Linked DNA regions of Homo sapiens: all the other regions are reported to be linked to region 6. Evidence: microRNA targets listed by miRTarBase, many of them from high-throughput screens and not tested one by one. Region 6 holds a microRNA gene; each other region holds the end of a gene's coding sequence.

Region 1 (4,105 bases), not on the chromosome of region 6:
CCCATTGAGCCCTGCCCGGGAGCATCCAGGGCTGGCACCCATATAGCACGAAGGGGCACATAGACCTGCGGCTCATGGCTCCTACAACCCCCTGCTCAGCTCAGCACGCGCGCACTGCGAAGGGAACGCAGAGGCAGGGCACACGCGCACCCTGCCCCGCGCCCCACTCCCAGATAGTCATCGTGGGATGGCATCTCGCAAATATTTATATTCCTCAGCGCCACGGCAGCCCGCGTCCACATTAGACACTCTAATCCTGCCACTTTAAATAGATGAATTAATAAAGCAAACGAGCGGCTAATAAGCTGACTGTCCTGCCTTTTTGAGGCGGAGGAAGGACTCGAAAGTGCGCCAAATTTGTTTGCAGTGGATCAAGGCGAGCCGCCTCTGCTTCACTTTCTTTATCTTAATTCCGACTTGAAAAGATATAATTATCTAGTTTGAACAGAGCTGCTATCAAATCCTTCTTTGGGCCGGGAAGGGGGGCGTTGGAGTGGATTGCGGCTCTCTGAGCCGCTCCGTGCAGCCGGAGATAGCGCGTAATGAAGATGTGGAGGCCTGAGATACAAAGGGCATTAACCTCATTAGCATGAAACCTTTTCTTCTTACCATTGTGGGACCCTTTCAGCCGCCTAATCCCCCCTATTTTCAAAGCTTGGTTTGTAATAAAGCTTTTAGTTTTTTTTTCAAAGCTAATAGTATTCTGTGATGATTTTATTGCTGTTACACTACATAGGACATTTACCCAAAAAAAGAAAAATCTTCACCACCAGCCCCGTTTTCTTGTACTTAAAAAGTATAAAGTATATAATTTCGGCAGAAGTAAACCTTCTGTTAAGACGGAATTTTTTTTTTTTTCTGGACAGACCATCTGAATTTTAAGAATGTTTAAGAATGAGCTCGGTGTTTGAGGTATTCCGGGTTTTGGAAGGTGAGTGGAAGGAAAAGGTAATTTGTACTTGTTGAAGAGAAAGGGATGCTTTCCGGGAGCACTGACTGCAAAGCGCTTGAGACAGCTGGTGGTCACTGAGGGTCGTGCTGTCAAAGCGCCTGGAAGCCCCACGAGGGTTTCCAGGATACCCCGAGGCGCACCTGTCCCTGTGAGACGCAAGCCCGGGTCTCCTGAGGCCACCCCGTCTCCCTCCTCCCCCGGCAACTCCCGGCGGCGGTGTATCCCCTCACGGCACACACACCTTCCAAGAAGAGTCTGTGAAAATGCACTATGAGCAGCCAGGTTTCTACAGAGGGACAGAAATGGGGGGAAAGAGGGGAGGTGGAAGACAGGCAGAGATGGGGGAAAGGAGAAAGAGACGGAGAATGAATTCTGCTTTAGAGAAGAGGAGAAAAAAAAGAAAAAATTTCCATAGTGCCCTATAGTCCCCACACGTGCACGGAATGTCTAATCTTAACTTTTCAAGGCAAGATGTTAACAAAGCTTGTATTTTTGCCCTGCATTGTAACTTGGCCTTATCACAGTGTAAAGGGTGGGGAGATTGTCCTAAATTATGTCCAGGCAGCCCCCCTGGATCCGTGGATTAAGAGATTAAAGGAGACCACTGGGCAAGGCCTCCTCTTTCCCCTTCATATTCCTGGTATGATAATTGCTTAAACTGATTTGCACTTTCACAAAAGCTCGCAGGACGCTTTGTAGCTCGAACAGAACAGACGAGGTTTCTCTATCAATGGAAATAAAACTGATTAATGCAGCCTATCAGGATAAGAAGCAAATGAAGCATGCAAAAACAACCTCGTACCCCCAGAAGGGGGAAGGAGGGAGGGAAAAAAGCTAAGTTTCCTCCAAGTCTGATTACAACTTTTTCTTTAATGTTAAAATTAAGAGTTGAAGGTTTTTCAGAACACTTGCCTTATAAGGCTGCTGAGGCCCTTGGGCTTGGCCCATCACCTTCAGCAGATTGGGGCCAGGGAGAGGAGGAAAGAAAGGAAGGAAAAGTAAGACTTGTACTTTGGGGTTTGAAGTCAGAAAGTTTAGAAGTTGCAAGATTCTGCTACATGTTTTCCCCAATATTTTGGGAGAGTAGTCCTCAATGTGTAACTATATGTCCAGTTTTTTTTTAATAACCAGAGGTTAAGAGAAGTAAGCATTTTAACCTGAAGTTCAAACTAAACTCCCTCAGGAGGGCATACAATGGGCAAAGTCTGGTTGAAAAACTTTTCTCCCATCTCTTTTCTGAAGGACTTAAGTTTTCCTAATCTTCTCCCTTCTCCACCCTCATCTTTCTTTAAAATGCCTGAGAATCCATCAATCTGGCCCTTTTGTGGGTGAGGAGCCTGGGTTTCTTGAGCCTAGTTGGGGAAGGACCACACTCAAATTACTGAGATACATTTTTAAAGATCCACTTCAATTTCCCAAGACGACTACTCTGAGGGCATATTGATAAATCTTTATTGACAAAATATTGACATTGACATACTTCTTGGAAGTATATAGTGTGTTAGAATTCTAACAAATTAACACAAAACACAAAAATATTTACATTCTGGTATAGAAGACATTAAGGAAGCATTTGTCACTCTCTTTAGTAAGTCTATGATCTTGGAATAGAAACTCAGTGCTTGAAAACTTGCCGCCGTGCGCTTGGCCACACTTAACATCATCCCCGCTAACTACAGTCCTTCAGGTTTTGCAATAGATAGATTTAAAGTTTGGAATAGGCATTGCAGTGAATGGTTGAACTCGGCCAATTTCTCCAACCACTGAAAGGAGAAGTTTGCATCAGGGTTTTAAGCCTCAGGATGTTAGGAAAGGGAATGTCCAAGAAATATAATTAATTTAGGGGTTTTTTTCCCAGTACAAGTCCTGATTCTTTTTGTGGGCACCCTCCCCCGCCACCCCCAGCCCCCCCGTCGTCCTGCTCCCCGTTTCTCTGTAAGAGGACCACTATCGCTGAGCCTACTTCATTTAGCTTGCACAATCACTTTGACATCAGAAGGTATCAAAAAGTGTTTACAGACTGCACATTTCTTGGGAAAAAAAATCAAAATAAAAAGCACACAGAACCTGTCTTTAAAAGGAAAAGAAAATTACAATTCATTTTCGGTCTTTAAACACCATTCGCCCAACAACTGCTACATGCATTTCAAGGATTTGAAACAGGTGTGGGATGGGGCTAGATATGGAATTTTTGTTTTTTATTACTAATTATTTTTAAAGATGGGGGGGAAACACAGCGAAGTGCAAAAAACAAAAAAGTCCTGTGCCTGGTTGGGTCGTGGTTTTTATCATCATCATCATTTTTTAAGTGGACTGTGATAAACGGAATACCTGCCAATCATCTTGTCTCCCCGGTTTGGTGTTTGATTGACAGCTCCCCTTGTCAGAGTGCACGTTCAGCTTTCTCTCTCTCTCTCTCTCTCTCTCTTTCTCTCTCTTTCTCTCTCTCCCTCCCTCTTTCTCCTTCTCTCTGTGTCTCTCACTCAGCTGCCTCTTTAGACGAGGGTCGCTTGTTGATGAAGGAGCCTCCATCCTCTGCCATCTTGGCGCGGCCTCGGTTTGGGACCCTGTGCCCTCGCTGTCCAGAGTCTTCGCCGCATTCCGCTGCTCCCTCCGATTCCCTCTCCCTTTCTCGGTGAACGTGTATGCGGTTTGTTTTTGTTTTGTAGGGTTTTTTCCTTCTCCACCTCTCCCTGTCTCTTTTGCTCCATGTTGTCCGTTTCTGTGGGGTTAGGTTTATGTTTTTAATCATCTGAGGTCACGTCTATTTCCTCCGGACTCGCCTGCTTGGTGGCGATTCTCCACCGGTTAATATGGTGCGTCCCTTTTTTCTTTTGTTGCGAATCTGAGCCTTCTTCCTCCAGCTTCTGCCTTTTGAACTTTGTTCTTCGGTTCTGAAACCATACTTTTACCTGCGGGTGAGAGGCAGATGGGGTGCGTTAGTTCTTTCAGAGCACCCTTCTATCAAGTGCCTGATCCTTTCACCCAGCCCAGACTCCAGTTCCAGACTCAGCAAAGACCCAGCCCCCGAGATGCAAGTCCTAAGGTCCAGCCTCCCCAAGGCCTGCCCTCAGGGAGCAGGGCCGCTAGTGCGTGGTGGAACAGAAGCCCAGCTCCCTGCCCTTCTGAGGCTTCCTGAAGAGCCTTTCCCCA
Region 2 (4,000 bases), not on the chromosome of region 6:
GGCCATGTGTCTCAGAGCTGTTAAGGGCTTATTTTTTTAAAACATTGGAGTCATAGCATGTGTGTAAACTTTAAATATGCAAATAAATAAGTATCTATGTCTGTGTGGAGTGCTGTGTAATTCTTTCCACCATCTGTTCATTGTTGGCCTGGAAATGAGCAGGGGCTGAGAGGAGCAGGTCTCGCCCTCATCTAGTCCTGCCTCTTCTGGTCTCTCCTGTTGGGTGTACTCCTAATACTTCATTATATATATTGTTTATATATTTGTCATATCTTTGTCATCTGTCCATCGACTAAAGATACGGTGAAAGTGACTGTGATGAAGGAAAAGTAGAAGTGTTGAACTTAGAGCTAGTAGAGAAATCTGCTTGCATGGCCAATGCTCAGTGCAAGAAACTGGACAGCAGGTATGTCAGGATATGTCATAACAAAGTGGCCAATATAGAGAAACTTAAAAACATGACTCAGTAAAACTGCAGCTGCCAGCCCCCTTGGGACAAAGGGGCTTCTGGTTCTCATAGTCTTGAGCTGAACTGACTTTGACCTTCCCAAATAGTTCATGTGCCACCCTCCCAAGCTATAGTTATTATCACGTGACTGACTTTCCCAGTGACACCAGTGAGACTTGGGACGTTTCCCCAGACAATCCCACACAAGCAAAGAAAAAGCTCATTGTAGTAGCACATTAATACACTGGTCACAGTGCCACTTCATCATCAGCAACAACCATGGCTTACCAGAAGGAATATAAAAAAGTTCATAAACTATAAAGATGTTTCACAGAATTTAAGCTGCTCACTTTGTCAGATAAATTAGAGAAACAATGGCTTTCATTTTTAAAATAGATGTTTTATTCTGCTAGTTCCATAAAAACAATGTAAACACAGGCGTTCTGTACATCTTGCTGGTGAATTCACATAATGCTTAGTTCCCTGATCCTTTGACCTCCTTGTCTTCTCCGGTTATTTTCTGTTTGGACCCCTGGCCACAGGAGTGGAGTGGGGTTGGGGCTTAGGAGAGAGCAATGTGGCTTTTTGGTATGATTTGTTTTATTGCTTGCCCGCTCAGCACGCTCCTGTTACTCCTAACAAAGTTTGAGATTTAAGCCCTTAAACCTGTAGGTTTCACCATCAGTTTTTCTTTTTTTTCTTTTTTTTTTTTTGCATAGGCATTACTAGGGACATAAATGGGAGACTGGCATAGAAAGTGGTGAGGAGCCGAAGCCAAGGAATTGCTTTAAACACAAGATGAAAATACTCTGTTCTGTCCAAAGCATCACCTAATGGTGTGAGGCATCTCACTTAGCTGTGGAGAAGTCCTTGGAATTAGATCTCAGAAAGACAGCTTTAAGACAGTAAAACCTTTTGGCAATGGGCTAATTGCCTTAAAAGAAGAGTTCTACCTGAAAGACCTTGCAGGTGGAGAAATTGTCCTACAAAGATTCTTGGATATGTTAGTGGAGATAACTGACATGGGTAGCTGTGGGTCAACCAGGAACTGTCAACAACCTGATCTCTGCAAAACCAGGATGGCCAGTTAATGGTTTATTCAGTTCTCTGATGGTCACAAATGTAATTTTATTTAGCCTTGTGGAGGTTCTGCAACAAATGTAATTTTAAAGGAATTAGGAGCCAGAAAGATAAATGCAACTCCTTCAACTACGTGACAGGGCAGACTGGTGAATCTGGGTTCCCAGAGTGTGGAGCAAGTGCCCTGCATCAGAGAATGGCCCAGGGGGAACGTGCATGATGCTGAACCCCGCAGGACAGAATTACTTCAATCGCCTGCTCCTGACTACTATAAGGACGAAGCCTCAGTGTCTCAGTTTGGATCTACGCTGGGATTTCTTTCTTTTGGAGACAGTGTCTCCCTCTGTCGCCCAGGCTGGAGTGCAGTGGTGTGATCTTGGCTCACTGCAACCTCCACCTCCTGGGTTCAAGCAATGCTGCCTCAGCCTCCCCAGTAGCTGGGACTACAGGCGTGTGCCACCACACCCGGCTAATTTTTGTATTTGTAGTAGAGACGGGGTTTCATCATGTTGGCCAGGCTGGTCTCGAACTCCTGGCCTCAAGTGACACGCCTGCCTCAACCTCCCAAAGTGCTGGGATTACAGGCGTGAGCCACCGCACCTGGCCTCTATGCTCGAATTTCTACTCTTAGCTAATCTCTCTAACACATATGCCCTTCATTGGGTAAAGCTGGCTCAGCAGACTAATTACACCTGTCATGTAATACAAGCCTCTCCCTGGCTTGTATTATCTCATGGTTGCCTTCTATTTGTGACAAGTGCTATGAATATTCCTTTTTAAGAAGTGATACAAAATCTTTTTTTTTCTTGAACAGGATTTTTAACTCAGACAGTGTAAACATCATGACAATTCTGGAATGTCTGAAGTTTGAGATAGAAGATTGTCTAAGAAAAGCTGAGATTGTCTTAGCTGTTTGTGGTATCCGAATTCCTCTGGAACATGGGCATCAGGAACCAAGCGATGCCACTGCTACTGGGCAGGGTTTTTATATTTTACCTAAACAGAGACAAATGACGCTGACCTACCTTAATGAAATTTCAGAAAAACCATCTGGAATCAGCCCCATCATGTCCAGATTGGAAGGTATCTGGGGATCAATGAAACATACCAGAACTACTTTTCTTCCCCCAAACCAATGTAATGAATGTCAAAGTATTGATGCTAATTTAGATTGTGATTACATATTAAGTTTTGCTTCATTAATTGTAGCACTGGCAGCTGTTTTGTGAACGCTGCATATTAAACTGTAGGCAGCTGACAACAAATATCAGCGGAAGGGGATATTTAAAAGCCAGTTAAATTAATCAATGCTTTTTAGGAAACTGAGCCAAGATTAACCCCCTGGTGCTTTTACCCACAGACCCTCGCCAAAGTCTCCCACAAGGAACATTTGTAGGCTATTTTGTTTTGAGATGTTAACCCATCTCCGATGCCTTGCTGACATTTTAGATTATATATACAAGCCCTATAATGAATAGCATTCACAAAATTTATGAGGCAAAAAATTAAAATTGTTCAAAAGCCTGATTTTTGCTGGCAAAGTTTATCCATGAGAACATAGCAATTAGCCCCCTACCTCTCCAAAAGAAACCCTACAACCCTAAAACCCTAAAACCAATCCAAATCATGTAATTTAGAAGAAATAGGTTTTCAGTGTGTACGACTGAAGAGTTCATTAAGGTTTTGCAGCTGGAGGTTTAAAAAATCCCACTTTTCGAAAATATCTGACAATCAAGGGCACAGAGACTAGCGTAATGCTGATTCTCACTGGCGCAAACAGCTTGTGGATTGCATAGGCCACCACGAAGGTACTTGTGCCTGCTGCCATTTTTGACTGTACCAGGGACTCTTTAAATCCGAGTTTCAGCAGGATTGCAGGCATGTCCACACCACTAGGGGGGAAGAAGCAAAGAAAACAATTATTACAGCAAGGGATTAAATGAAGAAATTGATTTGGCTATAAGATTTACAGTATTTTAAAAAATGTAATGAAGTAGCTGAATGAATAAAAGTCTTAGTGGCCAGGTGCAGTGGCTCACGCCTGTAATCCTAGCACTTTGGGAGGCCGAGGTGGGAGGATCGCTTGAGCTCAGGAGTTCAAGACCAGCCTGGGCAGCATAGCAAGACTCTTGTCTCAACACAACAAAAAAACATACAATCGGCCTGACGCGGGGGCTCACACCTGTAATCTCAGCACTTTGGGAGGCCGAGGGGGCGGATCACTAGGTCAAGAGATTGAGACCATCCTGGCCAACAGGGTGAAACCCTGGCTCTACTAAAAAGACAAAAATTAGCCAGGCTTGGTGGCATGCGACTGTAGTCCCAGCTACTCGGGAGGCTGAGGCAGGAGAACCACTTGAACCCGGGAGGCAGAGCTTGCAGTGAGCCGAGATCACGCCACTGCACTCCAGTCTGGCAACAGAGCGAGAGTCCGTCCCCCAAAACAAACAAACAAACAAATCAGCTGGGTGC
Region 3 (4,105 bases), not on the chromosome of region 6:
GAAAGATGCAACACAGACATAATACCTGGGGGAAGAAGAAAGATGCTCTGACAACATAATTCCCGTAGTAACTATATTAAAGAAGAGAGAAGAAGGCCCAACAAAAAGAATTTATTGGTGTCTGATAACAGAGAAATGAATCAAACAATTGCATATTCTTTTGGGGAGGTTTGTCAATAACACGTTAAAAGGAGAAAGGTACAAAAATATTTACAATATGACTACAACTCTTACAACAACAAAAAATCCTATACGGAGGGGAGAAGTGACAAAATACTCCACGGAGGGGAGAAGTGACAAAATACTCCAGTGTGAAGGAACTTGGTTTAGATGATAGGAAAGTGATTCCTTCTTTAAAAAAAAAAGAATTCTATATTCTTTTTTATTTATTGAGCAAGGATTTTGCATTACAATCGGGAACAAAAACAGACCTTTCTGAGAAGAGAAGGGGCTCCTGCAGTAGCCTAGGAAAATCACATTTAGAATCCACTCCCGGGATGTCATTCTAGGCTCTGCTGACTACAACAGCCTGAGTGAGGAGGAAAGAGGCAGCAGCAGACAGCGGATGTGGAGCAAGTACCCTCTGGATGTGCAGAAGGAGTTCGGCTATGACAGCCCCCACGACCTGGATTCAGACTGATGGTCTTGTGATGTCCATGAGGTTCTGCCACATGCCCTTGAGGGCTCTGAGTCCAGAGTTAACTGCCCTGCTGACATCCTGTTAGGTTTCCTAGCTTAACATGTGGAAGGAAAAGCATATCAAGCATATCGGGCGGCACCATCCCACCACAGTGAAAACTTATGTTAGGGGAGTGAGTCTTTTCCACTTACAGTAGGACCCCTTTGCCTCAATCAAAAGTGACCCTACAGTTTGAAAGAAAAAAAAACGTTGAAAAAAGGAAGGTTTCTTTAGCTTTAGCTTCTTGGCCCAGGAATTTTTCCTGGCATTCAGGTTCTGTGCTGAAACCACAAGGGAGGGGGAGGTTCCCATTTCATTAGCAGTAAGCTTCTGCTGTGCCATACCACCAGGCTGCCTGCCTCTAGGAAAACCCTGTTCCTTTTGATAGAATCTAAAAGGGGTACCAGTGGGTCCCTTGTAGCAATACAGACTGGATAGTAATGGCCATTAGGGCAGAAAGTAGTCTGAGCAGTGGGAGATTTTAGTTAACAGCTATTTCTGCTTCCAAACTCTGATAACGGTTGTGAAATTACTGACTGACTTCCTTTGGCAGTGGGGCCAAGAAACAATATATATGAATGTGATACATGTGTTTAGTAAAATCTAGCTTTGAACATGGAAGAAAGTAATTCTTTGAAAACCTTTTAAATCTGAATATCTAAAACAGGGAGCGGTAGTGAAATAGAAGGTTCAGCATTGATTATAAATACCAAGGACTTAAGGCAAGGGAGGAAAAACAAAGTACCTTCTGAACTTAGCTTTCCACTGAGTAATGTTTACTCTTCACAGCACCCACCACAAAAACAAACTACTATCAACAGGATCAATTTTATTAACAACTTGTATCTCTTCTAAGCAGACTCTGTCCGTATGCCTTTCCAAACCATAGCTGCCTTAACTGACTGCCTTGGTGTTTATTCTAGCGTAACATTGTCCAGTAGAACTATCTGCAGTGATGATATGTTCTGTGTCTGCACTGTGTAGTAGTAGACACGGGTGGCTGCTGAGCACTTGAAATGTGATTAGCGCAACTGAGAAACTGAGCTTTTAATTTTATTTCATTTTAATGTAATTAGCTACACGTGGCTAGTAGCTGTTGCAGCGGACACCACAGGTCTAAGGAAACAACACAGAACATTCAGCTAGGGGTGTACCCTCATAGCCTGTGAGTGTCTCTTACTCACTGTCATGGGGGAAGGTGAGTTACACAGGGAGGTACCTTCTTGCCGCCTCTTTTAGGATTTCCTAAGTATCTCTCCTTCATCCTACCTGCCATCATTCTTTGACTTTATGTCCATTTTCTAAACCTTTGCCTACACTTGCTCTTATCTACATGGAGTTGTTCAACCTGCCGAAGTGATTAAATTCTGTGTACACAGGCCGTATATATTGCAGCTAATTAAAACAACAAACATCCTAGGCATGCACAAAGGTATAATTCACCGTTATAACAGGCAGCAACTTGTATGTCTAATATTAGACATCTTGCTTTCTGTCTGTAGGCATAGAAACAAAGGATTGAAAGCCATTCTCATACAGCAACCGGGTGAAAAAAACAAAACACTGTGCTGTTACAATGTGCTCCCTGCTATTTATACTCATTAAGTTTCCCCAATATTAAAGGGCTGACAACTTAATAAACTGTACTCACTGCAAAAGGGATAATAAGCACACCAGGAAAAGGATTTAAGGAGACAGACAACAAAGAGCTGGCAGAAATTAATTCCACCATGAAGCTTGAGTGCTGTAGGGATCCTCTGGCTTCGCTCCCAAAGAGAGGATCCTGGGAGAAGTCTGTATCCAGCACAGAGGGGAAAAATGCTGTCACCATCCAAAAATGAAAGGAGGATGACATGGCTCACTAAGCAAGTACTAGGGCACCTGGCATGTGAGGTCCTTGCTTTCCCTAGAAGCCACTGGTGGGGGGCAGCAAATTCCTGGGATTAGCTGGTTATCTGGTGGAGAAAGCTAAAGCTGGGGTCAGGGATCTTTAAAAGGCAAGCACATTTTGCTTAAAGGATTAGCTCCAGAGGAGCCCTGGGATGGGTGCCAGCTTAGCTCAGACAGAAGTCATGTTCTTAGCGTTCAGGCAAGTCAGCCTTTGCATAAGACACCCTGTCGTCGGGCAGGAATTTGCCGTTACAAATCCCAAACCCATGACAGTAGGAATGTCACCCCATGCTTCACATATGCATTATGCTCTGAACCCAGGGCAACTATGACCATGCTTCCTTCAATCTTTATTGAGCAAATATATGGCCAAGGTTATTCCCTTATCTGTGACTGGGTGGAGAAGAATGGTCAGGAAGGGAGACTGCCTCACTGTTGACCAATTCCAAAACCTAAGGATAAGCCCATGGGGTATGTCAAGCTAGCAGGTTCTTCTCGGCCCAGGATGACAGTGTCTGGGGGCATCACAAAACAGTTGTACAATCCAATGCAGCCGTCCTGCTCATACAGTAAGATCCATTAGGCCAGAGCAGGCCTAACTTGGGTGGAGAGCCCAGCCTGAGCACCAGAATTAGTTGCTTCCACTTGTGCAGCCTGCTGAAGAGCCGGACTCAGGTTGAAGCAGCTTTCCTCCCAGTCTTCACTGATCTCCACAGGGAGAAAACAGAAGTCCCCACAAGTACCAAGCTCTTCCTGAGACTGCAGCCACCACACCTCGGGGAAGGGGAGGCTGGCAGGAGAGGAGTACACTGTCCCGGTGACCCACACCAAGGTGGCTCCAAGTGTAAACAAAGCCTGGTGCCAGGGACAGAAGAGGATGCAGCCTGATGTGAGGTTTTCAGAAAAGTGAAATGACCTAGCACCAGGTTGGGATTGCTTGGGTCTGCACAGCAGTCCCTCACACTGCCCTTACAGAGAGGAACAGGTTATTTGATGACTTGGGCCCATGAGATGTTCTCCAAGCCATTGACAGCTGAGAGAATTCAGGTGATCCACCTGAATATCAGAAGTTTCAGCCCTCTTAGAGTTCGTAACAGAAACCCAGAGATTTACTGTCAGCTAGAACAAAGATGTAAGGTCTCAAGTAAAATAAAGGATTGTCCTTCAAAACAGCAATATTAACAGACTTCTGACTCAGGAATTTGTTCATCTGTCCTTGCTGGACCTGAGCCAAGTGCTTGTAACGTGATCTATGATCTATCTGTATGCTAAAGTGTAACAGGTACGTGAGTAAAAAAATCTTTAAGGTTCATTGTTGCAGGTAAGACTCAATAGAAATTGTGCTAAACAGCATAAAACCTGTGGTCAGAGTCTGACCCAATACCACAGACATTTCTGAGCCCAAAGGGACTCAGTTTTGGGTACTTTGATTTTTAAATACAATCAGCCTATTGCATCCTGTAGATGAAGAGACACGCATGCTTCGTTAGAACTGGTGTTCTGGACTAAATATCAATAAATAAGGGAATATAACTC
Region 4 (4,087 bases), not on the chromosome of region 6:
AAGCGCTTCATGCGCAGCGACCACCTGAGCAAACACATTAAGACGCACAACGGGGGCGGCGGGGGCAAAAAGGGCAGCGACAGTGACACGGACGCCAGCAACCTGGAGACGCCCCGTTCCGAATCCCCCGACCTCATCCTGCATGACTCCGGCGTCAGTGCCGCCCGGGCGGCGGCAGCGGCGGCGGCGGCAGCGGCGGCGGCGGCGGCGGCGGCCTCCGCGGGAGGCAAGGAAGCAGCGTCTGGCCCCAACGACTCTTAGAGGCCGGGCGAGAGGCGCGAGCACACAAGCGAGTAGAGACACCGAGAACGAACGAGAGGTTCGGAGGGCGAGCGAGCGGGAGGCGGGAGGGCAGGGGCTTCAGTGACGCCCCCAGGGCCCGGGCTGGGCGCGAGGTGGAGCCGCTCAGGGCTCCCGGGCTGCGGTTCGCCCGCTGTGCGAGGAGCTCCCCTCTGCCTTCCGCGCCCGGATAAGAATCGAACGCGTGGTCCGGAAACAAAAGCGAACCATCCTCCGACACAAACACTTTAAAAACTGTACTCCCAGACGTACACATACACCGGAGACCTACAACCACAAGCACGCACACTCGCGCGCGCACACACATACCACTCGCCCAAACTTCTCGAGCGAAGAGCAATACATAGAAAGGCTCCCTCTTTGCCCACTCTCCACCTCCCTCCAACACCCGTCTCTTTCCTTTTCTCAAAAACAAGCCACCACCCAGCAAAGGACTGTCAGAACATTTGAAAACAAACGGGACCGATAAAAACACCCTTTGTTTGGATTATATTATATATAAAATGCTCCAAGTCCTGCCTGATATCTACTTACAATGAGACTTTTTTCCTAAAAAAGGAAGCATCAAAAGGCTTAAGGTGAGAAATTAAACTGGAAGTCTAGCGACAGTTTCTCTGTATTTCATAACATCTGTATAAATAGGGTTCAAAAGATTGTGTTCTCTTTTATTTTCTTGTAAATGTTCATTCGAATAGAGTTTTTTTGGGTGAATCCCTGAAATTCAGGGAGTTTTTTTTAATTTTCTGATGCACTTTGTGAAAGTCAGTATATATGTAAAAGATATTTAAAATGTTGAGTTATCATTTCACTCACAAACACGTAAGTTAAGGTCATCTAAAGAAATTAAATGCGTTTATCTGTATCAAGAAAATCTTGACATCATATTTTCATTTTGGTATTATTAAAGGACTCTGAACAATACATTTCCTTTTTTAAAAATCCTGTTTCCCCCTCAATAACCTTTTCGTGGGTCGATTTTTTTTTCGGTTGGGAAAAAATTCCCTTAATGTTAGTTGTAGGTAATGTAAAGTTTATGTGGGTTATAAAAGCCATACTACATATACGTTTTTGAGAAGTCAAAATTATTTATTTGTATATCAACAACATAAATTAAATTGGGTTGTAAGGACGTGTAGTTGTATTACTTAATGTGAAGGCTCTCAAAAGGTGACATTTTAAAACTCTGGAGCGCCTAAAAAATGCAAAGGTCCTTGGCAGCTTTAATTGGGGAGGTGCCTAAACCTCTGGGAGGGGTCAGAGAAAACTCTGGTGGGTTTGTTTGTTTTTAAAAAGTGATTTAAAAACAACTGTGAAAGGAAAACGCTTAAAAAAAAAGAAGTCTTTTAGCTCCCAAGGCCCTGTATGTTGGAAGGCAACTCAAGGGAATAAATCGCTAGAGTCAATACCCCGGAAAAGACATTTCATGCCTAAATGAAAATCTTGTTAAATGTTATTAATTTTGACTTAGAGCACACAGCAGCCCCCTGTGCCTTGTATTCCCTTATTAGGGATTCATGTCTTATCAAATATCTAATTAATCTCCTAGACATCATTTGTTCTGGCCAACTTTATCTCAGCTGGTCCGCGGGGAAAACTCCAAATATTCTCTGTGACAAAGCTCCCTTGAAGATCTTTTTAATTGTCTAAATTAACTGCACCAAATTTGCATGTCAAACGGTAAAGGGCAACCTGAGATAAAATGTAAACGTTTTAAAAAGCCCCCAAACTAAGCACTTGATTTGATAACTAGGCTTTTTAATGTTATGGAAGACAACTGCTCCTTTCCTTTTCAAAGACGGCTGATCTATGCAAATAGTGAATTGGAAATGCCTAGGTCCCCGCGCCGTCAAATGGCCCTCGCAGGTTATTTGAATATCAGTGGCGCTGCTTCTGAAAAGGTTCAAGGATGCTCTCTGACTTCTTTGTGATTACTCAGTGCGGCGTCTTATTCTGAAGAAAAAAACTCAGGAATAATTAAAGGCTGGGATCAGGCCTGGGAACACATTTGGGACAGGAATCTCATTTAGACAGTCTCTTTCAAAATAAGGCACAGTTAAATTGACCAGAAGGCAATTATTGAAATGAAAATTATTTTCACTCTCTTTGTCTTCTGACCACCAACTTAACAGCCCCAGTTTAAAAGAGGGAGAAAAGAGGGAGAGACAAAAAGAAAATTGGTAAATGAGATAATTTCGCAATTCGAAAAAAATGTTAATTTAGAAAATAAAGTACATATTTACAGAATAAAAATATTTCTAAAAGATTTCCCACACAAGAGGAAATACAAGCGAAGTCAGCACCAACATATTTTTTTTTTCCATTTTTGATTACTGTCCGCCTTGGGAATTTGAGCGAAGATTTTGATTTTTAGGAAAGAAAAAATAAATTCTTGTTATTAACAATCAGCAAAATGTTTTCTCGGAAACTGTTCTGAAACACCAAGTCGCAAAGTAGCGATAAAACAGAACGAAGGTCCCCAGCAGGGAGTTTGCAGCGTGACATTCAATGGCTTCTTCCTTCTCCTTCTTGAGCTCCCCGCGGCCAGGCTGCCCCGCTCTTCTTACTCGAGTTTTTCTTCACTTTGGCCATTTTCTCTCCCCGATCAAGCTGTTCATAACCGGGAGCCCCCCACTCCCTAAGCGCCTCTGGTCGGGGGATGGTCTTCCGGAGAGCCGGCTGGCAGGGACGCGTTTTCCGGAGGGGCTTCGGGCCGGGGCACTGGAGGCCCAGAGGGTGCCTGGCGCGTTTGGGGGCCGCGGGCTGGCGGCGCGGAGTAGAGGGTGTGGTGGGTCTCCCCAGGAACGCGGGCGCCCGGGCGTCGGGCCCAGGGAGCTTTGTTTCTCGTTGATAATAAAGGCAGATCAAAGGGCCCGGTCGTGCAGGTCCCGCTGGCCGCGCGGCTCCCTCCGCAGGCCAGTGATCAAGGCCTGTGTGCGCTGCCTCTGCCCCGCGGGTCAGCGGACGTCCATCACCCAGGCTCCCGGGAGCGGCGGGCGGCGGCCCCGGACCGAGCGTCCAGCCGGGAGACAGCAGTCCGCGGAACCTGAGCCCAGAGGCAGCGGGGCCCCGGGGCCCCGGCCGAAGCCAACAGGCGAAAACAGGGCCTAGGCCCCCTGCCCGGCCTCCCCCAAGCCCTAGGCGCCCCTGGGGGCGCGGGGAACCTTGACCTGAGCGGGTGGCGACCGGCCGGCCGGTGATGACCAAATTGGAGACAGCGCGCGTGGGAGGCGAGATCCCGCCAGTTACAACACGAGTTCGGTCCCCAATTGCGGTGGGGCCTCGCCTCCCCAGGGCCACCTCGGGGCCCCAGAGGCCTGTGCCTTTCCGGCTCAGGGGCCAGAAGGAGCTGGAGGCGGTGGTCAGGGGCCCAAGCTCAGAGGCGGGTAGCGGCCTGGAGGTCGGTGGGGGCGGGGGACGCGGCCTGGGGGCCCAGAGTCTCGCCCGGGCCCGGTAAGGGCAGTGCGATTTCGAGTCCCCCGGTTTCCCTGGCATTTCCTGTCCCATAGCTTCCAGCGCAACAGAGGAACGAAAAGCAAGTTTTCCTCGGCCCTGCGCCCACCCAGCCACGATCCGCACCATCCTCCAGCGTTTCCTTTTCTGACACCAGTTTTCTGCCCTTGGAATGAATTGGATTCTACCTGATGAGGAAAAAGAAAAAGAAAAGAAAGAGATTTTCTTTCCTCGAGGAGGGAAACAACATTATTTTGACTAGATTAGATTGTGCACCTGAATGGTGCGTCTGGACTTTCCGTCAAATCGTTACAAGTCGTGTAAAATTGAATTTCTT
Region 5 (4,105 bases), not on the chromosome of region 6:
TCTTTACCCCCCTACCCATCTCCTATCTTCCTTCCTCGCTCCCTCCCTCTTCTTCCTCCCTCCCTCCCTCTCTTCCTCCCTCTTTCTCCCTTAGAATAGAATATGTGTTGTCTCAATAACGTTGATAGAAGCAGGGTCACTACTAATAAGCACTGGCTTCCTGCAAGCACTTGCACGAATAAATTTTTTGACTTCTTTAGATAAGTATGAATCTACCAGACTGCAGCAGATAGCTGCAAATGTCTTCAAGTCTTCATCACCATGGGGGTTCAGAGGTCTTAAGAAAACTACACATGGTCATCTTCAGGTTCTAAGAGCATTAGGGAACTTGAATGTGACCATCTTCGTAAGTCTCTGTACATCTTTTAGTCATGCCTGATTTGTCATCACAAAAGACACAACGAAGAGTTTAAAAGAATTTAAAATAAAATTCTCAATGGGAGACAAATTCATGGATTATCTGATCTACTGGAAGCAGCCAACTTCATCAATTTTCTCCCAATTATCTCCAGTTTTCTCCCTCAAATTTCATGTCTGAGCTATGAAGAGAGAGGGTGAATGCGGTTTGTGGAGACTGTAGAAGCAGGTTGAGAGCAGTTATCCAGAGATCTGCTCTTTTAACTGTGTTGGTTTGCATTAGGATATAGGAACCATTTTATCTTTTGTCTTCCGTAAGGCATATCTATCAGTCCTGGGTCATAGCCTCAAAGATCCCCATAAAAAGGTACAATCTGGAGAAGTACAGAGGCCTCCTAACTAGGTCTAGTCTCTCAGATAGAAATACCCAAGGAAAAAATAATTAACACTCAGTCCCAGGTCTCAGAGTAGGGGCACTGTGTGAGTTTGTTTTCCAAAGGAAGTAAGGGGAAGAAAAAACATACAAACAGCAAAACGTGACACCTGAAAAGTGCACTGACCAGCAAGCTTTGTCAAGACCCCAAGAAAACACCAACAGCTGAGGAATGAACAAATGTGTGGAGTGTATTAATAAGGTTTTCTTCCCCAGTAGCTTCATCTTCAAAGGAAACACTGGCAATTTTTTCTTCTGGATTTTTTTGGTTCTGATGACTGACATAAAAGCAAAATAAAAAATTTACCATGTGGATCTTTTAAAGCACAATACAGATAAAAGGAATGTAAAATGATTTTCTTGTTCCTTTCATATTCCTCTATAAGAGACTGTGATACCATTTCCAGCTACTAATGGTGAAGCTGTTCTGTCTTTTCACATCCATATTCATTGCCAAGATGAGCTTGTTCACGATAAGCAAGTAGCTGTGAGTCATCGGGTTGGAGCCGTTAGTCATACACAGAGAGGCAACGTGTAGTCTGGTTGGTTAATCAGAAATTCATAGTGAGAAAGGCCAGGTATCATTCACAGCAGATTAAGGGTTAAAGGCTTTTGGTGTAGAACTCTGTAACGCCGCTTTTGGAGATACATGCACACACAGATATAATATACACATATGTATATATCTATTATACATACATGTATGTTTGTGTGTGTATGTGTATTCCTCCACATCCCACCCCCAGAATAAGATCTGGCAGCTTTCAGAGTAGCAATCACCAAAAACTCTCTGTGTTCACACATTTTTACAAGTTAACAATGGAATGACTTCTAAATCTTTGGTTTATCAAAAAGAGAGCTTCTAAAATCCCAACATTTTTGATTATTTTTTCTATAAGTGCACAGTGAACAACTTTTTTTTTTTTTTTACAAAAGATAAAAACAGTGCCTTAGTGATTTAAATAAAAAAACAAAACAACAGCAATAGCTCCTTTCTACAGCATGCAACAATATAAAATGGTGAACTGGAGCCACAGAGAGCCTTACAGAGACTGTTCTGAAATTTTAGCTTTTTCCAACTCCCAGCCAAAGCCACGAGAGGTAATGAGGAATGCACATTAGACCATTGTCTTTTTCCTTCCATCGTTTTCAATGCGCAATTCTGTTTTCTTTCAAAAACCCAGATCTGAAATTCTCTCTTGTAAATATCATCCATATTTGTCTTTACAATGTAATGATTTCCAATTTCCCCAGAGCAACACAAACCAATAATTTCTTGAAAACTAAACGAGAATAGAAAGAACTTCGTGACTGATGGACCAAGTCACCAGTTTCTTCCTCAAGAAATTCTTGCAACTTCCTTTTGCAGCAAACTGTGCGTGTGGAGAATGAGTTCTCCAGAAGAACCTGGATTGTTAAATTTTTCAAAAATGGCTTTCTTAGGAGTATGGCAGCTTGTTAGAACTGAGAAGTCCTCCCCTCCCAATGTGGAGGCAGAAAAAGAAAGATGGCCAAACGAGGAACAGGAAAGGATTGGTACCTTGAAGGAAAAGTGGAGTGGGAGAAAGATAAACTGATAATAACAAAACAAAAGGAGAAGTTGGACTCCCATAAGTAATAGTCCTTCTATAGGAACCCAGGGTGTTTATCCCAGGGTATGTGAAATGATGTTATTCTCTAGTCCTGTCTGAATTATCCCTGGTGGGGCTCCCTTCCTGTGCCTCGAGATATACTTCTACCAATGTGGTCATCTCTAGTCTTTGGAACTAAAGGGGGCTGTGTTGGAGAGCTTGTGGCATCTCCTTCGGGGGAAGAAGGTCTGCATTCTTCAGGGTTCTCATCTAGGACACGTACTTATCAGCACAGAGATGGTGGGAATGATTGGGCCACTAGTTAAAAAAGAAGAAAGTTCCGAGTGGAGTTCTGTGGACTCAGTTCAGGTTAATTGTTATTAGTGACCACATCGAGTCCTGGGTACAGGTTCAGAACCACTCCAGCAGGGCAGTTTTGTGGTAGAGGGAAAAGAGAGTTGATTAGCTTCCCTGGAAATCGATTGGTTTTGTTCCTCTGTCTCAAGAACTTTTGATCTGAAGCTGGGTCTGGCTTCTCTTTTGAAAGATAGTAATGGAGACATTGGGCAACAGCTTCCATTGCAGGTATGTCTTCCATAAGCTTTGAGGGGCTGGCTTCCCTGTACTCCCAAAAGACTACGTTTTCCTTCCACGTTATGTCTAGTGAATTCATGAGAAAAGCTTACAGTGTGAGCTTATGCCCCAACAATGCCTGAGAAAAATTATGGGCTAGAAAATATACTGGTCTTTGAAAAGGCAGTGAAATATCTTTTTTGGCATCCTTAATCTGAGAAAGCACATTCTTTTAATGCATTGTTGAAATCATTAACAGTTACTGACTGTTGGTAAATATTACAGTATATGTATTTCTAAAAATGACTTTTGTTCTTGTTCATTGGCACAGAAATCATTGCTTCTTTTTAATTCTCTTCTTCTTCTTCTGTTTTTGGACAGTAAAGTATGTATGGCTGTGTGCTTTCCCCCATGGAACTCCATTGGTCTTCCATAGCACTGGTGCATTGGGCATTCTACCACTGCTGCAAGTGAAGGTCCATGGAAGAATTCAAATTGAGATCAGTGACATCCAGGAAATCGATGTTGAAGATGCTGGGGCTGCTGGTGGTGAGGGCGCTAAAGCCTGGTGTGGAATTTGGCGGAGTGAGGTCCAGCCACTCCATGGTTTCCCAGGGAGATTCAGTGAAGCTTAACTGCAGCCCATTGCTGTCCACAGAAGAGGGTGAAAACTGTGTCTGCATTGGAGAGAGGGGGCCTGGCAAGATCTCATGTGCATTGAAGAGGTCTTCTGCAGCCTTCCCAGAGAATCCATCCATTATCCCATCAAAGTGAGGCTCTTCGCTCCCAATTTTTAGAAGGGTGACATCACTCATCTTTCCTAGGGGGCTCTGGGAATTTAATAAGACTTCAAGATGCTCATCACTGTCGGTGGCATAGGGATCAAAGGGGATCTGGCTGCCTGAAGAGGCTTGTTCAAAGGAAGCCGAGGGCTTGGTGAGGACAGCAGTTGGACTTCGGGAAGATCTGGGTATCTTTGGGACTTTTTGAAGACATGAGTGATCCTCTCTAGCGTCTGCTGGCATTTCTGTGGGCAATACACGATGTGACTTGTTAAATCACTTCAAATTGAGCATGCCACACAATATGAGTGAGTTACACTTAGATACAGAAGATGGCCACGCTTCCCTGGTCACCGCTCACCACCCAGTCTCATCTCTAAGCTGCTCTA
Region 6 (4,105 bases):
TCTGAGGGCTGAGCCCCTGTCACATTGATCTCTAAACTCAGTGCTTGGCACACAGCCTGGCTGGAGGAAATGAAAAATCAATGTTTGCAGAATGTAGTAGAGAGCCATTCCTGAGCATTACAATGCATTGGTTCTCCAAGGGGAAATGTTGGGGACCCAAAGAACACCAGAGCAACTGAAAGAAGCCTTTGGATCATCACAAAGCCAGGGTTTGGCTGGGAAGTCATAGTCTCAGGGTGAAACACATGGTCAGTGCCAGAGCTGGGATCACAGCTTGCGTTTCCTTATGTGTCTTCCCACATCCTTTTCACCATCCTGCCCGCCCCACTACTCTTGGGGGCTATTTCCCCTGCTGGGACCTGAGCATCCTCACTTGATAAGATACTGGAGTGGTCAGTGGGTCTTATCAAAATCATTAGGAACACCAGATTCCACGGCCAATCCAGACCTACTGAAAGAGAATCTTGGTGGCAAGAGTGAGGGATCTCTATTTTTCCAAGTGTCCCAAATAATTCAGAACAATTGGTTTGTGGGCTGTGGACTGGCATTTAGATTAGAGGGTCAATCAGCAAGGTTCCTTCTAGCTCCAACCCTCAGTAATCCAAGGCCAGAGAAGAAATCAGGGTCATCTCTTTTTAAAGCCAGAATCCACTGGTGTCATGTGGGGTAGGGGTGGACATTGTACTGGAACCCAGTGACAAGTGGGTGACACAATGCAGGAAAATGCCCATGTGAACTGCCAGAGAAAATAACAAACCTACTCAAGCCCTGCTACTAATAAGCGCGGCACTCCTGGACTTTTGTTTTTCCTTTATCTTGTATTTGGCCAAGTGGGCTGGAAGGAGCCTCCTTTTAATGACTGTGACTTGGCAAAGACTTTCATAGGTCCCGAAGGAGATGGCAGAATTGACATCTGTGCCCCATGAGAAAGGAGAGAACTCAGAACTGGCCACATGCCTGGGCCAAGAAAACCCCAGAAAATTCTGCAGAGGAACCGAGGAAGCCACCAGGAAGCGACCCCAACCCCAGGAATGATGCTAAAGACTACAGCGAGAGCACCAGGGATGCCTCCTCTCGATATTGGATGTATTTGCTGCGGATCCTTCATCCCTGGCCAGGTGACCGTTCTCCCCACACAGACTGCAAATACAAACTCATTCAGGCTGTCCCCAAACAGGCTGAGGCTATGCAAGACAACAGAGAGATCCTGGAGAAGAAAAACATGGAGAAGAGCTGGAATTCAGAGGCTGGGTCTGACACCAAGAAACTCCCCGGGAGCAGTAAGGACAGGCTAACCTGCAGCCAGCAGCACCAAGAGGGACCCGGCCGCTGCGCGGGGCCTTGGCCCTGGGTTGGCTGAGGCCAGGCTGTCAGCCCTGGTTTCTCACAGACCTGCCTCACCTCTGGCTGCACCAGGAGGCCTGCAACAGAAGCCACAGTGTGGGGTCAGCAAGTAGGGCAAGAAGTGGCAGGAGGGTGCTGTGAGTCACAGAGCAGGCCAGGCAGAAGTCAGGTGTGGGGTCAAAACAACAGGAAGAGTGTGACTGGGTGTGACTAGGCAGCCAAGGTAGACGGTCGGAGACTCCCTGACTTAGCCTCTCTGTTCTGGCCAGCCTGAACTCACTTTGTGCACCTACTCGTTTAGCCAAGTAAGTGACTGAGAGTCTATCAGACAGCTGTGGATACACCCACAAACAGAGTCCCTGCCCTCATGGAGCTGACATTCTAGGGAGAGTCTAGCAATACAGCTAGTCAACAAAAACAAAACCATAATTATAGCCAAGCGGTGATAAGAGCATAGATGGGAACAGAAGCACAGGGAGTACAGAGTGAGGCAGGCACTATTGTGGGCAAGTGAACAAAGGAGTGGAGAGTGAGGGCAGGCGCCATCTTGGACAAGTGGAGGAGGGAGGAAATGAGAGACAGGGCAGGCACCATCTTGGCCGGGTGGACAAGGAAGGAAATGAGAGAGAGGGCAGACACCATCTTGGCCGAGTGGACAAGGAAGGAAATGAGAGAGAGGGCAGGCACCATCTTGGACAGGTGGACAAGGGAGGGAATGAGAGGGCAGGTACTGTCTTGGACAAGTGAACAAGGAAGAGGGTGGGGAGTGAGAGCAGGTGCCATTTTGGACGAGTAGAGAAGGAAGGCCTTGAGTGGAGACCTGAATGAGCTGAGGAAGGACGTGGACTCCCCCACCTCAGAAAACTCCTTTCTGTACTCTGGCCTAAGCTTTCCTTGTCTTTTAGATCTCAGCTTAGATGCCTCTTCTCCTTCCCTGGTCCCCACACCCAACAGGGCCCCTTCTAGGTACATGCTTATAGCTTTGTGTCATAATTGCTATTGCTATTTACTCTCTTAGGACACTGTGAGCCTTCTGAGGATCACGTGACCTGGTACAGGGCCCGGTGCACTGAGATACCCAGCCTGTGCAAAGGGAAGGCATGCATGAATGGAGGGACTCATTAATATGGACCCAGATGGGCAGGTGCTGGCTGGAGGGCATGGCTCCCCAGAGTCCAGGGCTTTGGTGGCAACCTGAATGGAGAATCCAACATCAGGGCCCCAAATCTCCAGCATCCTCTTTATTACATCACAACACTTCTAATCACATACTTGCTGCCTTCTCTACTTGAGATGACTCTGGATTCTGGACCCAGAGCTCAGGCTGTTACAATGACCGTACATCTCAAGTGAGAGAATGGGGACATGGCTGTCAGATGATCATGGTGGGTGCAATGGGAAGTCTGGAAAATGTCATTTGGATGCTGAAATACTGAAATTCCCAAGAGGTTTCAATGTATATAGAAGTGATAGAAGAATATTTGGAAACAAGACACCTTCAAAAAATTGAAAACATATGATAACCATAATCACGGGATGCAAAGCATCAATTTCAAGGATGTCTCTGGCCCATGGCCCATGCTTACCATGCATTGAGCAAAGTCATGGCCTGCAGGGCTCCTATGGTCTCCCCAGTAGGGACCACATTGATCTCAGGAACTGAAAAGTGCCCTCAAGGGAGAAAAAGAACTAGAGAGCACCTGGGCGAGGCTGCACAAGGCACCACTCCACCCAGACCCCAGTGTCGGTTCATTAAGCATGGAGGCCTGTTCCTCACCACCTGTCCCCAGATCCCCTAGACTCAGGGCTTCCCCCCATGGTGGAGGGCCGCCTGCCCACAGGGTCAACAGATGCTGCCTGCCCCAGCAGGGTCAACACAAATCTGAAAGCCACACCTTCTCCCCTGGACTCACCCAAATCAGAGGCCACATTTTGTTGTAGCTCCACTTCACAGAGCATGGCCCTAAGCTGTGGATTTTGCATCCTTTTCTCCCCACCCAACAAAATCTCAGCTCTGTTACCACCTCTCTGGGAAACCACAGGCTGAGGTCTGACTTGCTTATGATGTAGGCTGCCCTGATTCAGGAACTCAGAGTCTAAATTCAGAAACTTGTGTCTCTGGCCTCCTTTACCCCTGAAGAGGTATAGGGGAGGCAGGCAGGCAGGAGCCTTTCCCAGAGCTGAGCAATGAGGCCACCTCCAGCAACACACTTGGGGAATCACCAACGCCCTCCAACAGTGACTACCCTCTAGCCTGAGAAGGACGTCATCATTTAAGAGGTTTGGGTTTCTGTGGGCAGAGGGTTTAAATGCTGCTTTTTCCCGGCAGTTTCTGCCCCAGGTCAAAGCTTTCCCACCAAGCCACCAACCACCACTGGGAAATGCTCTTGCCCCACAATGTGTCAGCCCCGACTTAATCAGAAGTGGTGACTGAGAGGCAGCCTCAGCCTGGTCCGTGACTTCCCCAAGACTCTTCCTGTCAGTCCAGGGAGTTTTTTCCTCAGATGCCCCCCAGGAGGGTCCCTGCAGGGGGAACGGGGCTACTGGAGTCAGGGAGATGCCTCTCTCTGCACGTGGCAGTGGAGGAAAATGGGAGACAGGGATTCTTGATTGTGTGAAATTCAGAGACTCCTAGGCTCCAAAGCAAGAGCAGATGCTCCAGGTAGAGGGCAAAGGGCAAGAGAGCTGGTGATGAGCAATGGGACCCCAGGCTTTCGAGGTTGCAGCCACGTCCCCTAGTAACTGCCCTTCAATGACTGCG

What was found. The annotated mature microRNA hsa-miR-4287 reads UCUCCCUUGAGGGCACUUU and lies in region 6 at 3,008-3,026, opposite strand. An mRNA with a match to its seed (bases 2 to 7 or 8) in the 3' UTR can be bound and repressed. Matches are read on the target gene's strand: a 7mer-m8 pairs with bases 2 to 8, a 7mer-A1 pairs with bases 2 to 7 and ends in A, and an 8mer does both.
Region 1: the mRNA of EMX2 is a reported target of hsa-miR-4287. Seed matches in the 3' UTR shown: 7mer-A1 at 3,641-3,647, 8mer at 3,575-3,582 and 7mer-A1 at 3,398-3,404.
Region 2: miRTarBase lists FAM210B as a target of hsa-miR-4287. Seed matches in the 3' UTR shown: 7mer-A1 at 2,240-2,246 and 7mer-A1 at 1,865-1,871.
Region 3: the mRNA of SLC7A6OS is a reported target of hsa-miR-4287. Seed matches in the 3' UTR shown: 7mer-m8 at 971-977, 7mer-m8 at 1,404-1,410, 8mer at 2,986-2,993 and 7mer-A1 at 3,284-3,290.
Region 4: the mRNA of SP9 is a reported target of hsa-miR-4287. The part of its 3' UTR that is shown has no 7-base or 8-base seed match.
Region 5: the mRNA of MYOCD is a reported target of hsa-miR-4287. Seed matches in the 3' UTR shown: 7mer-m8 at 2,498-2,504, 7mer-A1 at 516-522 and 8mer at 85-92.

Annotation. Positions count from the first base shown.
Region 1 is chr10:117,547,824-117,551,928 of GRCh38, reverse strand. It overlaps EMX2 (empty spiracles homeobox 2), which reads right to left. Exons shown (of 3, transcript NM_004098.4): 3 at 2,383-3,864. The coding sequence ends at 3,697. Among named protein-coding and RNA genes, the nearest start is that of EMX2, 7.1 kb to the right of the region's middle. RefSeq lists enhancers at 1-37, 1-957, 896-2,240 and a silencer at 3,937-4,105.
Region 2 is chr20:56,365,491-56,369,490 of GRCh38, reverse strand. FAM210B (family with sequence similarity 210 member B) reads right to left here. Exons shown (of 3, transcript NM_080821.3): 3 at 828-3,420. The coding sequence ends at 3,204. It overlaps AURKA (aurora kinase A), which reads left to right. Exons shown (of 9, transcript NM_198437.3): 9 at 1-101. Among named protein-coding and RNA genes, the nearest start is that of FAM210B, 8.5 kb to the right of the region's middle.
Region 3 is chr16:68,297,810-68,301,914 of GRCh38, reverse strand. It overlaps SLC7A6OS (solute carrier family 7 member 6 opposite strand), which reads left to right. Exons shown (of 5, transcript NM_032178.3): 5 at 510-3,881. The coding sequence ends at 640. SLC7A6 (solute carrier family 7 member 6) reads right to left here. Exons shown (of 11, transcript NM_003983.6): 11 at 96-4,105. Among named protein-coding and RNA genes, the nearest start is that of SLC7A6OS, 11 kb to the left of the region's middle. RefSeq lists a silencer at 3,635-3,929.
Region 4 is chr2:174,337,280-174,341,366 of GRCh38, forward strand. It overlaps SP9 (Sp9 transcription factor), which reads left to right. Exons shown (of 2, transcript NM_001145250.2): 2 at 1-1,221. The coding sequence ends at 261. Among named protein-coding and RNA genes, the nearest start is that of SP9, 4.4 kb to the left of the region's middle. RefSeq lists an enhancer at 1,256-2,888.
Region 5 is chr17:12,762,929-12,767,033 of GRCh38, reverse strand. MYOCD (myocardin) reads right to left here. Exons shown (of 14, transcript NM_001146312.3): 14 at 1-3,961. The coding sequence ends at 3,390. It overlaps ARHGAP44-AS1 (ARHGAP44 and MYOCD antisense RNA 1), which reads left to right. Exons shown (of 2, transcript NR_104607.1): 2 at 3,316-4,105. Among named protein-coding and RNA genes, the nearest start is that of ARHGAP44, 25 kb to the left of the region's middle.
Region 6 is chr8:27,883,081-27,887,185 of GRCh38, forward strand. It overlaps MIR4287 (microRNA 4287), which reads right to left and starts at 3,036; the gene lies at 2,959-3,036. The region is part of intron 7 of SCARA5 (scavenger receptor class A member 5); the gene reads right to left.